Homo sapiens: one gene and its partner. The protein of the gene in region 1 interacts with the protein of each later gene in a biochemical or structural test. Each region holds a gene or a part of one and is shown on either strand. Other genes may lie near its edges.

The links. Proteins that work in one complex are often made in the same cells at the same time.
Region 2: the proteins of RAB4A (region 1) and RUFY1 form a complex in vitro, tested with the Homo sapiens proteins (2 studies listed by BioGRID).

Annotation. Positions count from the first base shown.
Region 1 is NC_000001.11:229,273,725-229,281,619, reverse strand, and holds part of RAB4A (ras-related protein Rab-4A), read right to left. Parts: intron 1-7,895. UniProt on the Homo sapiens protein: The small GTPases Rab are key regulators of intracellular membrane trafficking, from the formation of transport vesicles to their fusion with membranes.
Region 2 is NC_000005.10:179,546,730-179,554,000, forward strand, and holds the start of RUFY1 (RUN and FYVE domain-containing protein 1), read left to right. Parts: upstream 1-3,824; 5' UTR 3,825-3,840; coding exon 3,841-4,150; intron 4,151-7,271. UniProt on the Homo sapiens protein: Activating adapter involved in cargo sorting from early/recycling endosomes. Regulates retrieval of proteins from endosomes to the trans-Golgi network through interaction with the dynein-dynactin complex.

The DNA.
Region 1 (7,895 bases):
AAATGGAATAAATACATCAATTAAATGACAAAGATTGGAAGACTGACTTAAAAAGCATGACCTAATCATACACCGTCTACAAGAAACTCACTTCAGTTATAATGATATGGACTGCTGAAAGAATGGAAAAGGATGTATCATACAAACATTAATCAAAGAAAAACAGGGCTGGCTGTATTAATATCAGATAAAATAGACTTCAGAACAAAGAAAATAACCAGAGACAGAAAGGGTCATTACATAACTATTAATACATAAGGGTAAACCCACCAATAAGATATAGGTATCTTGAACGTGTATATGCCAAACAGCTGTAAAATATGTCAAGCAAAAACTAACAGAATTAAAAGGCCAAACAGACAAACTCACCATTACAGCTCGAGATTTTAACATTAAGTAAAATGTTAACAGTATGGTTGGCAGTTTCTTATAAAACTAAACATTTAACTACCATATGACTCAGAAACTGCACTCCTAGACATTCATCTCGGAGAAATGAAGACTTTGAGTCATATAAAACCCTGTATATGAATGTTTATGGCAGTTGTATTGGTATAGCCCAAAATTGGAAACAACCCAGATGTTCTTTAACAGGTAAATTGTTAGACAATCTTTGGTACACTCATAACAAGAAATGCTACTCGGAAATAACAAGGATTAAACTGTCAATACATGCAATAACCTGGAATGTATCTCCAGAGAATTATACTGAGTGAAAAAGTCAATCCGAAAAAATTGCAACTGCAAGATTCCATTTATATAATATTCTTAAAATGACAAAATCATAGAAATGGAGAATAGTGGTTGCCAAAGGCTAAGGAAAATGTGGTGATAGGAAGGAAGTCTGTGCCTATAAAAGGGCAACAGGAGAGATCTTGTGGTGACGGAAGTGTCCTGTATCTGTGTCAACATCAATATCCTAGTTGTGATATTCTGCAACAGTTTTGTAAGTTTTTCCCATTGGAGAAAACTAGGAAAAAGGTGCATGAGAACTCCGTATTTTTTCTTAAAACTATATGAATCTGCAATGATCTCAAAATAGAAAGCTTAACGGAAAAAAAAATACGTGATATTATCAGACAATGACTCTGTACGTTTACTATGCACAGTCCCCAAACTGGAAGAACTAGCAAAGGATTCAAGAAGGAAACAATACCACAAGGAAGGAGCAGCAGATAAGCAGCTGAGCTGTCCATCAATTCTTTTTCTGTGTGGTGATACATGTATTTAGATAACGCAGATAAAACTATAAGGAGATAATGAATTATTCCTTGGTAGATGATGAGAATCCAACTTCATGAGGAGTTTCAGTTAGTGCTGAATTACCTGGATCTCACAGAAATCATTCTGGCAGGAATGCATCATGTTCTCTCAGAGTGTTCAATGTTTGCTGGTTTGCAGCAATGATGATCTCACTCATCATGACTCCATATCAGAATATGGCAGAATCTGTACTAGTTTTATGGGTTTATTTTGTATTTTTAATCTGTGGTTTTTTCTTTTTCCTTGCTTAACAGTGGATGACATATATATAGCATACCATGTGTATGTTTTATATGTTAAGTGTATAGTGCTTAACAACTACAGAAAGGCTTAACAGGAACAGGTGAATAGCCATATTACAGAGTAATTAATGAAGGCAAAATGCCTATGTAGGTTATATAACTAAGTGTCAACTGGTTAAATAATTGTGCCCACTTAAATTAGATTCGGTGTTTATTATAGTGAACGTTAACTTGAGGGCTCAAATTCACAATAAATTTTTCTCACTCAGTTTATAATTATATTCACCTGATAAGGGTTTTCTCCAGAATGAATTAAGATTGAAGGGAAAGACCACACCCCAAAACAGAAAATCTAAAACAGATACATCCTACTAATGTACTTTTAACTTTCCGTATGAGAAAAGTCAAATGAGATAATAGGAAAGGTATCAAATAATTAGAATTCAATCTTGAGCAAATGTCAGCCATTCAGGAACACAGACAAAATAAAGACCAGGAAAAAAAGGTCTCCTAGCCACTGAAATAGCAAACATAAAGCCAAAAAAGATTAACTCTACAGGAGACACCTCATTTGGAATTGACTGACTTGTTTTACATTCACTTCAAGCAGCCTCTATTACCTAATGCCCCAAACTGCAGTAGATCAAAGGTATATACTAAAGTAGGACTGTGAACTACAGGCACAAAGGCAGATGGGGACAGCAGGGGATGAGCTAGAAAGTGGCCGTAATAGCACAGCACATTCTGTGCAGCAGTCAATAGTCAATGATGACCTTGAGTGTTCAAGAAAATTAAGCCATATTCAGCAGACACGATGACCTCTGCCTTCCTAGTTTTTTCCCCAAGCAATCGTCTTGCTTTCAAGATTTCCAAATGTCAGAAAGGAAGCACGGATGTATGGCCTCTGACTGTATGATGCATTTCATGTGTCCTACTTCCTGGCAGAAAAGGCTAAGTGCTGTGGTATAGCACTAGAATTTGGGTAGAATGGAGTCATTTAAAGAAGGTTTCCTTCTTTAGGAATTAAAGGCTTAGGGTCTGTGATTACGAAAACTGAGATAAGAGATGCTGAAGGTTCTGAGAAGGAATAGGCTTTAAGGTAAAATAATAAGTTGCCAATTCAGAGATTAAGTTGAAAATACCTGTAAGCCAACACAGTGGAGATTTGGGGAAGCAGTTCTTATAAGGGCCGAATATGAAAAGAGAAGCTAAGTAAGATAAAGGCTGCCAAGTGTCCACTGACTGATCATCAGCATCTCTGGTGAAACCAACATCATTTCAGGTGGGGGCAAAATCCTAATTACAGTCAGTTGAAGAATGAAGGAAGTAAAACTGTTGACAAAAAGTACTGACAGCTCTTATAAGCAGTTTAGCTGTGAGGGAAAGGAGAGACAGAGGTGGTTAAAGGAGGAAGGCGCAAAGTCAGGAAGCTACCAGTGGAAAGGGAAAAGGAGGGGAACAGACATGATGGGTGAAGTGGGGACTTGAAGCTTTAGAGATGGGGTCCAAAGTAGAAGGCTGGGGTTAGTTTTAAACAACAGAGACCTTCTGAGACAACATGGAAAGGGTTAAGGATGAGGTAAGCAAGTTTGCAGACATGGCATCTTTTCCTTACATCTACTGGTGGTCATCTACTAGGAGTGAGAGAATGGGCTTGAGGAGATGTGTGAAGGTTTAAAATAGCTGATGTGGAGAGAGAGGTGGCCAGGATAAGAAAAATGATTGCTAAGTATTACTGAGTACCCAGCTGGAAGCAGAGACCATACATCTGCAATGATCTCAATCTAAAAGGAGCTCTGTCTGCACAGCAGGCAAGGCAGATGGCTGGGTAGCCAGGGCTGGAGCTGTGCAAAGTGTGTGTAGTTGAAAGAAAAAGAAGGACGAGGTGGAAGGAAAAGCCATGAGTCTTATCTGAAGAGAGAGCAGCTCATTGCCTGAAAAGAAGAAAGGGGCCAGGCATGGTGGATCATGCCTGTAATCCCAGCATTTTGGGAGGCCAAGGTGGGTGGATCACTTGAGGTTAGGAGATCGAGACCAGCCTGGCCAACATGGTGAAACCCCGTCTCTACTAAAAATACAAAAATGAGCCAGGCGTGGTGGCGCACACTTGTAATCCCAGCGACTCAGGAGGCTGAGGCACGAGAATCACTTGAACCTAGGAGGTGGAGGTTGCAGTGAGCTGAGATAATGCCACTGCACTCCAGACTGGGCAACAGAGTGAGACTCTGTCTCAGAAAAAAAGAAGAAAGGGAGGAGATGGACCAGCAGCCTGAAGCTCTTACAGTGAAGACTGGATGGAGTTGGAGTGGTCAGAATGGGATAGGTGACAAAGTCCAGGGAGCAGTCAGGGAAGTGAGTACCTGAAGAGGTGGTAGAAGAGACCTGACTTCATCTTGACTAAAGTCAAGGAACTGTGGAGCGGAGTTGTTGATTGACCTCTGCAAGGACAATGCAGTGACCTAGGATCAGTCAGGAGTTAGAGCAAAGAGCAAGACCATATGATAGATGACCTTGTTGAAAAAGGACTATCCCCAGGGTCATCAGATAACAGCAACGAGGAGCTGGCAGAGGACAGAATATAAGATGACATGTACTTTAAAGGACAAAAAGTTTTGGTACAATGGTCAGGGAGGAATTGAACAGTGGGAACCTTGATGAAATGCTGGTTAGGAGAGGTGGAAGGTTTGGGCAGCAGAAGAGCACACGACCTGTAGAGGAGCGGGAAGAATAAGAAGTAAAGGAGGTGGAACAGGCAGCAAAAGCTAATCATGGGACTCTGCAGTGTGCCTGTAGGAGCCGCGGTTTACCTAAGCCTGAATTAAACGTTGTCGGCACAGCGGAATCCTGACGCTTGTAAATTTAACATTTGCAGCACAGACTCCCAACAATTGCTCCAGGTTCGTGATTGGGTCTTTGATTTTCCTGACCCATTCGTTGGGATCACACACACTGAGGAGGCTGATTTGAGGAAGGCAGTTACTTAGCAGGCCAACTCTTTGTTACTTTCCACTGATATAATAATAATTTATATAAATATAAATAATTATATATAAATTATAAATAATTATATATAAATTGTAAATAATTTATATATAAACTATATATATTATATATATCTATATTATATATAGATATATAGTTCTTCTAAAGTGGAAAACTACTCCCATCCTGGCCCAGGAGGCTCTTGTATCCTCATGAACCCAGGTTCCAGGTGCTGTGGAAGCTGCCTAGGGACAGTGGTGCAGATGCTGTGTGGCAAGCTGTAAGATAGTCAGCACAGCTGCTCAAGTCACTACGACGAAGAACTTTGGAATGAAACCCAATTTGCTTACCTTTTAATCATGTAAACTGGCCCTAATTTAACTTTCCTTTGCATCTTTCAGGGTAAACAGTAACTTAAACCATGTTAAGAAGTCAGCTCAAAAGACTCTGAAACCCAATAGATCCAGGAGGTAAGGATGGGGAAGAATTAAAAATGGACTCTAACTTTATCTTCTAGGCAAACACAGGAAAAATAGAAGATGGGGCATAGGCGTGAATAATTTGTTGGGTTTGGGACGTACTGCATTCAGATGCCTGTAGGCCACCCAGGTGTAGTTAGGTAGCTGAAAAAAAGATCTGTAGTTTGAGTGAAGGATGTGACTAGAAATATAGATGTTACAGTCATCAGAGCATCAGCAGTAAAGTCACAGGCATGGATTGGAATACTTTACAGTTCAAATGACCATGAGAAAGAATATTTTGTTTTTTCAAAAAACCATGCTTTCAAAGTTCTCGAGCATGGAGTCATTACATGCCTCCCTGGACCAACAGCACCTGCACGGCCCGGGAGCTGGTCAGATGCCGATCTCCCTCACCCTCCAAGTCAGGATCTACATTTTAATACACCAGGGGACTCGTGTGCACATTAGTTTGATAAGCCACTGGTGCAATGTTTCCCAAACTTTGGTACTTGAAATGTTCACCAGCTTTCAGTGAATGAGAAAAAGAAAATGACAAACATGTATAATCATATATTTATTCAACTTGAAGAAATGTCCTTTGTTTTGGTGTTACAGGATTCCTTTGTTGACATGTTTACCTGTTCCATCTTTCATGAAATTAAGGTAAAGGGCAATTGGGGTGATTTCCCTAAGAGCAAGTTATTTCATACTTTATTGGAACCAGGTGACTTTGAAATGCTATTTATACACGGGCACGGTGGCTCACGCCTGTAAACCCAGCACTCTGGGAGGCTGAGAAGGGCGGGATCATGAGGTCAGGAGTTTGGAGGCCAGCCTGACCAACATAGTGAAACCCCGCCTCTACTAAAAATACAAAAAAAAAATTAGCTAGGTGTGGTGGCGGGCGCCTGTAGTCCCAGTTACTTGGGAGGCTGAGGCAGGAGAATCGCTTGAACCCGGGAGGTGGAGGTTGCAGTGAGCCGAGATTGTGCCACTGCACTCCAGCCTGGGCAACAGTGAGAGACTCTATCTCAAAGAAAAAAAAAAAAAAAAAAAAGGAAAAGAAATGCTATTTCCTTTACCAAGGATATCTTCTTCACTTCATCTTGCCTTGTCATCCTAAATTTCTCATGAATCGTATTTTGATGAGCAAAGCCTATATTTTAGTTTCTTAGGGCTGCCATCACAAAGAACCACAAACTGGGAAGCTTAAAACAACAGAAGTTTATTGTCTCACAGTTCTGGAGGCCGGGCATTCAAATTCAGAGTGCTGACAGGGTCAAGGTCTCTCTGAAGGCTCAAGGGAAGGATCCCTCCTTGCCTCTCTCTAGCTTCTGGTGGTTGCCAGCCACCCCTTGGCACTCCTTGGCTGGTAGATGCATCCCTCCAATCTTGGCCTCCATCCTCACATCTCTTTCTCTCTGAATGCATTTGTGTCTAAGTTTCCCTCATCTTATAATGACACCAGTCACTGAATTAGGGCTCACCATAATTCAGTACGATGACCTCATCTTAACTTGATTACATCTGCAAAGACCTTATTTCCAAATGCGGTCACATTCACAGGTACTAGGGGTTAGGACTTAAACAGATATTTTGGGGAACACAATTCAACCTGAACAGCCTAAAATGATACATTTTTAAGGAAAATATTCTGATAATTCTCAAAATTATATGGCAAATACTGTAATACTGTGCTGTTTTCAAAATGAAGCACAAAATAAAAACATTAAGAGTATATTTTAATAAAAATGAGCATAGAACCAGCAATTTGAATTGTATTCTTCTGTTTCATTTGTTATTCCCATTGTAGACGGCATAAACTCTAATATATGTAGAGATTTTGTATTAGATTTTTCCTCACTCTCGAACTGCCCCAGCACTTAATTTCAAAAGAAATTCCTGGCATTTTCCCACTACATATACTTTTCAGCTCCTTTCTGAACATCGCTGCTTAGCATCAAAATTACTTTCAGCCAATTTGTAATCTCCCAGGTCTCAGATGGCTGAAGCAGAGTTCCTTGGGAAGTCCCAAGCCATACTAACTGGCCAGGGCTTTAAGAATGTAGTGTATCTAATGGCATTTGGTAGAACTGTTTCATATTCAGACTAAGGGTTTCATCCAAAACCTAAGATTTCAATTTGTTTCACGATATTACATAAAGTACAGTATTCATGTGGTGACTTCAAAGCAACAAAAATGTTCAACACTACTCAGTCTATGGAAGGTGAAATACTGTTTTAATATGTTAAAAAGCATATTAAATGAACACATTAATGAGAGGTAGCTCATAAACAGTACATTTCAGCAGGGCACAGTGGCTCATGCCTGTGATCTCAACATTTTGGGAGGTGGAGGCACGAGGATCACTTGAGCCCAGGAGTTCGGGATGAGACTGAGCAACAGACAGAGACCTCGTCTCTACAAAAAAAATTAAAAAAAAAAAAAAAATTAGCCAGGTGTGGTGGCATGCACCTGTGGTCCCAGCTACTCAGGAGGCTGAAGTGGGAGGATCACTTGAGATGGGGAGATGGAGGTGGCAGTGAGCCGTGATTGTGTCACTGCACTCCAGCATGGGTGACAGAGCGAGGTCCTGTCTCAAAAAAAAAAAAAAAAAAAAAGGGAAACAAAAACCCAGTACATTTCATTCCTCATCTCTCTGTCAAGCTACACAGAGCCTCCTTTTACAGAAGAGCAAATAAGCACAGAGTACAAAGGAGTTTAAAGGTTAGGCAAACATTCCTTCACCAGCTCAGAGGCAAATGTCCAGAAGAGAGCCTGACTGTTTCACTTTTAAGGAACAATGCTGTATAAATATGGCCACTGATACGTCAAAGTGACAGCCTAGGACTTGGTTCTAGGTGACTTTTACTTCAGCTTGGCAAACTTCAACTGTCCTGCTTGCTCCTTCTAAAACTCATTTTCTTTTTTTGAGACAGAGTCTCA
Region 2 (7,271 bases), on another chromosome or scaffold:
AGTAGCACTTTTAATTTCCAGCAAGAACTTTTCCTTTGCATTCACAACTTGGCTAACTGTGTGCAAGAGGCCAAGCTTTTGGCCCATCACGGCTTTTGACGTGCCTACCTCATTAAGCTTAATCATTTCTAGCTTTTGATATAAAGAGAGAGACATGCAACTCTTCCTTTTACCTGAACACTCAGAGGCCATTGTACGGTTATTAATTGGCCTAATTTCTTTTCCTTTTTCTTTTCTTTTTTTTGGTTGGAGATGGAGTTTCACTCTATCGCCCAGGCTGGAGTGCAGTGATGCAATCTTAGCTCACTGCAACCTCCGCCTCCCAGGTTCAAGCAATTCTCGTGCCTCAGCCTCCCCAGTAGCTGGTATTACAGGTGCCTGCCACCACACCCAGCTAATTTTGTATTTTTAGTAGAGACAGGGTTTCACCATGTTGGCCTGGAACTCCTGATCGCAAGTGATCTGCCCACCTTAGACTCCCAAAGTGCAGGGATTACAGGTTTGAGCCACGGCCTAATTGGCCTAATTTCAATATTGTGTCTCAGGGCACAGGGAGGCCCGAGGAGAGGGTAAGGGAGAAGGAAACACGTGGTTGGTGGAGCAGTAAGAACACATACAACATTTATCAATTAAGTTTACCATCTTATATGGGTGCAGTTTGTGGTGCCCCAAAACAATTAATAATAGTAACACCAAAGATCACAGATCACAAATCATATAACAGATGTAAGGGTAGTTTAAAAGTTTAGAATATTTTGAGAATTACGAAAATGTGAAACAGAGGCACAAAATAAGCACGTGCTGTTGGGTTGCCAACAGCAACTTTTTCTTTTTTTGAGACGCAGTTTTTTTTGCACTTGTCGCCCAGGCTGGAGTGCAGTGGTTCGATCTCGGCTCACTGCAACCTCTGCCTCCCAGGTTCAAGCGATTCTCCTGCCTCAGCCTCCAGAGTAGCTGGGATTATAGGCTCCCACCACCACGCCTGGCTAATTTTTGTGTTTTTAGTAGAGACGGGGTTTCGCCATGTCGGCCACGCTGGTCACGAACTCCTGATCTCAGGTGATCCACCCACCTGTGCCTCCCAGAGTGCTGGGATTACAGGCGTGAGCCACCGTGCCCGGCTGCCAAAAACTTTAATTTGTTAAAAAAGCAATAAAGCGAAGCACTATAAAATGAGATATATTTCAATATGTAAACGAGGCACAACTACCACTGAAATAACATAGACATTTGCACGTGTAATTCTGAACAAATCAATTTAGCTACGTTCCAGGAAAATTTAGGGTACACTTATGGTAGTCATTACACTGCTCACAAAGATTCCCAGTTGTGGTTTTCCCAGACAGAAATAGGTCTGAACTTCCCAACTCCCTAGAAATTAAACGTGGCCATGTGATTTGCTTTCACCAATGAAATGTGCATAAGTGACCTTTGTCATGCAGGACTGGAGCATGTAATATTTATGCAAAACTCCCAACAGGCTGGGTCCTGAGAGACTACAATGAGTTGGGCAGAGTACTCACCCCATCTACATTGACATGTAGCATGATGAGAAACCAGCTTTTAGGTTAAGCCATTGAGATTTGGGGGTTGTTACTGAAGAATAACCTTGCCTGATAAATGTTGAAACTGTTCCCCCAAAAAAGAGTTAATGTTTTTATACAAAATGGAATTCGGTTCCACGCCCTGATCATTATAAACAAACTTTTCACCTACATAAATGTCCAGTAGCATTGGAAAGTCATGAAGGATTCGGGACAATGCTGTTATTCTAGACTATCTTCATCCCTGTCTATGCATCCAGTAAAGACTAGTAGGGCCGGGCTCAGTGGCTCACGCCTGTAATCTCAACACTTTGAGAGGCCGAGGCGGGGGAATCACGAGGTCGAGAGATCGAGACTATCCTGGCGAACATGGTGAAACCCCGTCTCTACTAAAAGTACAAAAATTAGCCAAGTGTGGCGCCACGCCCCTGCAGTCCCAGCTACTTGGGAGGCTGAGGCAGGAAAATCGCTTGAACCCGGTAGGCAGAGGTTACAGTGAGCCGAGATTGCGCCACTGCACTCCAGCTTGGTGACAGAGCAGGACTTGGCCTCAAAAACAAACAAACAAACAAGACCAGGCCGGGCGTGGTGGCTCACGCCTCTAATCCCAGCACTTTGGGAGGCCGAGGCTGGCGGATCACGAGGTCAGGAGATCAAGACCATCCTGGCTAACACGGTGAAACCCCGTTTCTACTAAAAATACAAAAAAAAAAAAAAATTAGCCGGGCGTGGTGGCGGGCACCTGTAGTCCCAGCTACTCGGGAGGCTGAGGCAGGAGAATGGCGTGAACCCGGGAGGTGGAGCTTGCAGTGAACCGAGATCGCGCCACTGCACTCCAGCCTGGGCGACTGAGCGAGACTCCGTACGAAAACAAACAAACAAAAAAGACTGGTAGTATGCCCTCAGTCATTACACAACTCAAACACCAACTCCACAAATTCCCAAAACACTCCTAGATGAAGTGGTATCCCTTCACTGAGAACTGGCCTTTCAGGGACCAGACATATCATGCAACCTAGTGAAGTGGGCTGGACCAAGACAGGTCCAGGGAGCAGCTGGGCGTCTAAAGGGGCAGCACAGTTTATTCCCAACAGTTTGTTGCCATCTGGGAATATGCCATGAGTTACCAAATATTCCAGTGATTCCAGAGAAAGCTAAAATCCAGATTCTTATGTGAAATCTTTTGATTTCTAAATATTGGCAACAAGTTTTAAGATTTGTAAACATTCTGGGAATCAAAACAGCTCTGCTGGTTTGGTGTGGCTCATGTTGCCTCACTTTGCAAAGTGTTAAGTGCTAGTAAATTTTAGTGTTTTTTCTGAGACAGGGTCTCACTTTGTCGCCCAGCCTGGAGTGCAGTGGCCATGATCTCCGCTCACTGTGGGATCGACCTCCCGGGCTCAAGCGATCCTCCCACTCTCAGCCCCCCAAGGAGCTAGGAGTAGAGCTGTCCCGCCACGACATCTGGCTGGTTTTTTGTTGTTGTTGTTGTTGTTGTTTTGGTATTTTAGTAGAGACGGGGTTTCGTCCTACTAAAGGCCCGCCTGGGCCTTCCGAAGTGCTGGGATTACAGGCGTGAGCCACCGCGCCCGGCCAAAATTTTCCTTTGTACTTACTCAAATTCCTTTCTTTTCCAAGTGAAGAAACAGACTGAGTGTATAGTGACTTACCCAGGCCACACAGTTGGATACCAGAGATAGTAGTCACAATCGCTAACATCTGCCATGTGGTCCTTACTGCAAATCTTATTTAATAATGAGGTCGGTTTTTGTTATCCCACTTAACTAATCAATAGGAGAAGCCACCTCTGATTTCCAGTCCACTATCGTGCACTCTTTCTTGCCAAGCCGTCATAGTCATTAGATTAAAAAAAAAAAAAAATTCCTGCTTTCCTGCCTCGCCTGTGCGTTTCCTTAGTCGCCCTTTCGGGGCTTGTTCTAATGAGTGCTACAGAAAAATGACGAAGTGGAAAATATAGACCATGAAATGAAAATTTAAAAGAGGAAATGGTGTCACAAAGACAACGACGGCCAGGGAACCCCGTGAAGCGCCGGGCAGGGTGCACAACTGTCCTCGGAGAAAGTTCAAGAGGAACTTCCCCGCGAACAGGTCCTGCCGGCGGCCGGGAATACGCACACTTTTTATGTTATGACTTGGACTTTCCCGAACCTTTCGAAACAGAGGGAAGGCGAGGCGGTGAAGAGGGAGAAAAATCTCCCCCACCTAAGGCAAAGGCGATGCCCGCCCGCCCCCACCCCGCGCCCGCCCGCCCGCTGGGTCACATGACACGGCCAAGATGGCCGACCGGGAAGGCGGCTGCGCTGCTGGGCGGGGGCGGGAGCTGGAGCCGGAGCTGGAGCCGGGGCCGGGGCCCGGGTCAGCGCTTGAGCCGGGAGAAGAGTTTGAGATCGTGGACCGAAGCCAGCTGCCCGGCCCAGGCGACCTGCGGAGCGCAACGAGGCCGCGGGCGGCCGAGGGCTGGTCGGCGCCCATCCTGACCCTGGCACGCAGGGCCACCGGGAACCTGTCGGCGAGCTGCGGGAGCGCGCTGCGCGCGGCCGCGGGGCTGGGCGGCGGGGACAGCGGGGACGGCACGGCGCGCGCAGGTAGGCTCGGGCCGGGTCTGTCCCGCGGCGGACTCGCGTGTCCCCGCTGGCCGCCGGCGCGGGCGCGGTGGGGGCCGGGCTGGGAGGGCACTGGCCGTTCCGGGAGGTTACGCGAGCTGTTGGCGGGCGGGCGGCGCCTGGCTGCGCCTGGGTCTTTACTCCGGCGGCCCAGCCGAGACCGCCCCCCGCAGCCCCGCGTGCCTGAGCGCGCTCCCGCACCCGCGCCTCTATGCTCTCCCACTAACTAGGTGAAGGACGTGTGCGCGTCCGGGCTTCGGAACTCTGTAGTAACTCCACACACGAAACGGAGCCAGCACTGTTCTGCTTTTCAGCCGTTCAGTGCGGGAGTGGAGCGCCGGCGGGTGTTGGGAGGGCGTGGGCCCTGCGCGCAGCGGACCAGCGGCGCCTCCGCTCACCTCTGCCTGTGAGATGGGGATTTTAAAGTCACCCGATGATCTCTTAAAGACCTTTTCAGCCCTTGTAATGAACAGAGTGCCAGCATATCAGTGATAGTAAGAGTTAAGTAACTTAGCCCTCTAACGCCAGACATCCAGAGCTGTGCTATCCAATACAACAGCACGCATATGTTTTTGTGTGTGTGTTTTTGTTTTTATTTATTTTTATTTTTTTGAGACCGGGTCTTGCTCTGTCGCCCAGGCTGGAGTGCAGTGGTGCGATCTCGGCTCACTGCACCCTCTGCCTCCCGGGTTCAAGCGATCCTCCCTCCCGCCTCAGCCTCCCGAGTAGCTGGGATTACAGGTGCCCACCACCACGCTCGGCTAAGTTCCCCGCCCCCACCCCCCTCCCATATTTTTAGTAGAAACGGGGTTTCACCATCTTGGCCAGGCTGGTCTTGAACTCCTGACCTTGTGATACACCTGCCTCGGCCTCGTAAAGTACTGGGACTACAGGCTTGAGCCACCGCGCCCGGCCGGATTCCTCAATTTCTAACTGAATCAATTGAAATTCAGTACTTTTAAATTGAATTAAAAATTGAGTTCCTCGGCCGGGAGCGGTGGCTCACGCCTGTAATCCCAGCACTTTGGGAGGCCGAAGCGGGTGGATCACGAGGTCAAGAGATCGAGACCATCCTGGCCAACATGGTGAAACCCCGTCTCTACTAAAAATACAAAAAATTAGCTGGGTGTGTTGGCATGCACCTGTAGTCCCAGCTACTCAGGAGGCTGAGGCAGGAGAATCGCTTGAACCTGGGAGGCAGAGGTTGCAGTGAGCCGAGATCGCGCCACTGCACTCCAGCCTGGGTGACAGAGCGAGACTCTGTCTCAAAAAAAAAAAAAAAAAAAAAAACTTGTTCCTCGATTACAGCGGCCACATTTTAAATGCTCAGTAGCCTGTGTGTGGCCAGTGGCTACTGTATGAGATAGCACATAATAGAACATTGCCAACTTCATAGAAAATGCTGGGACAGAGCTGAGGAAAGGTTGTGGTGCCTTCCAAGGAGCATCATAGCACACACTCGAGGCTTCCTGATTCCTCCCCATCCACTGGTACCTTTGCTGTAGATGCACTGACCCCAGGTAGTGAATTGTGAGATTTTCAGTGGTCAAGAATAATTACTGAGTAAAGTTGAAAGGCTGACTCGTTTTGAGATCCTGGCAGTGGAAAATAGCATTAGAGGATGATGAGAGCCTGGGCAGGCCGGGAATCTACTGCCCTCTAGCTTGACACCTTTTCCCGAGACTTTTCCACACATCAGTGGATGCTGAGTTGCATACTCATTGACAGTCAGTACTGAAAGTCAAGGCATGGCGTCTCCTGGAGGCCTCTTAGATATTTCGTGGCAGGAGTAAGCAAATAATAAAAGTTCTTCCCTGCTAGAATTTCTTTCCTTTAATGCAGAATCAAGGAAAAAATTAAAAAGATAAAATGAAATGTGTCAGTACCTGGCACAGAATAATAAGTGTTTGCTGAACAAATGCATATTTGAAAAATACCTGTGTTCCATCTATGGAAGTGATAGAAACAATAGCCAACACTTATATTGTCCTTCAAAGGTGCCAGGCATTAGTCTTAAACCTGTACAAGTATTCATTCATTCCTCACAACAACCCTATGTGATAGCAGGACTAGCTTCATGGGTGGACAGTCAATGCAGGCTTTGATCACTCTGGTGGAAAGGGCCAGGCACTCAGAAGTATCCCATGCTTGAAATTCTTAATTTTATCTTTGAATTTGTGTTTTTTAAGTGAAGTCCAATGGGACAGGTTCTCAGTTGCCCTGGCCCACTCGAGCTGCCCTGGGGCTTCTCCCTACCCTCCCTGATCCCACTCTTGCCCAGGCAGCGTTGGGATTGCACCCTCCGAATCTCAGGGCAGGGTGGCTGGTACCACAGCACATTAGGCAGGCAAGTGGGCAGGGGCCTCTCACCTGTCCCATCCCTGCAGGGAAGTTGCAATCCATTAGGGCTGTAGTAAGGGGGAGTCTGACTTCTGTGCTCTGCTCCAGGCCGGGAATTTTGCACTGGGCCTTGTAAATCATGTAGATGGCACAGGGTGATGAGTACCATTATTATCCCTATTTTATAAAGAGAGTATTAAAGAGAAGTAACTTCACCAACTGCAAAATGTCTATATATATATCCCATATGGATTTAAAAAACTAGGCCGGGCATGGTGGCTCACACCTGTAATCCCAGCATTTTGGGAGGCCGAGGCAGGCAGATCACCTGAGGTCAGGAGTTCGAGACCAACCTGGCCAACATGGTGAAACCCTATCTCTACTAAAAAAAAAAGTACAAAAATTAGCCGGGCTTGGTGGTACGCACCTGTAATCCCAGCTACTCAGGAGGCTGAGGCAGGAGAATTGCTTGAACATAAGAGGCGGAGTTTGCAGTGAGCCGAGACCATTCCACTGCAGTCCAGCCTGGGCAACAGAACGAGACTATCTCAAAAAATAATAATTAACTCAATTTAAGGAAAGTATTAATAACTACCACTCAATCTAGCAAAATGGTGACCATGGCTTACAAAGAGATGAAATTTGGGGAACTGCTGGGTAGAGCCATGAGGCTGGTCCCAAAGGTCACCGGGATTTGAAGCCATCAGGTAGGACAGGAGCAGAGGTGGGAAAGGAAATGGGCCAAGGGCGGCTCGCTCTGCAG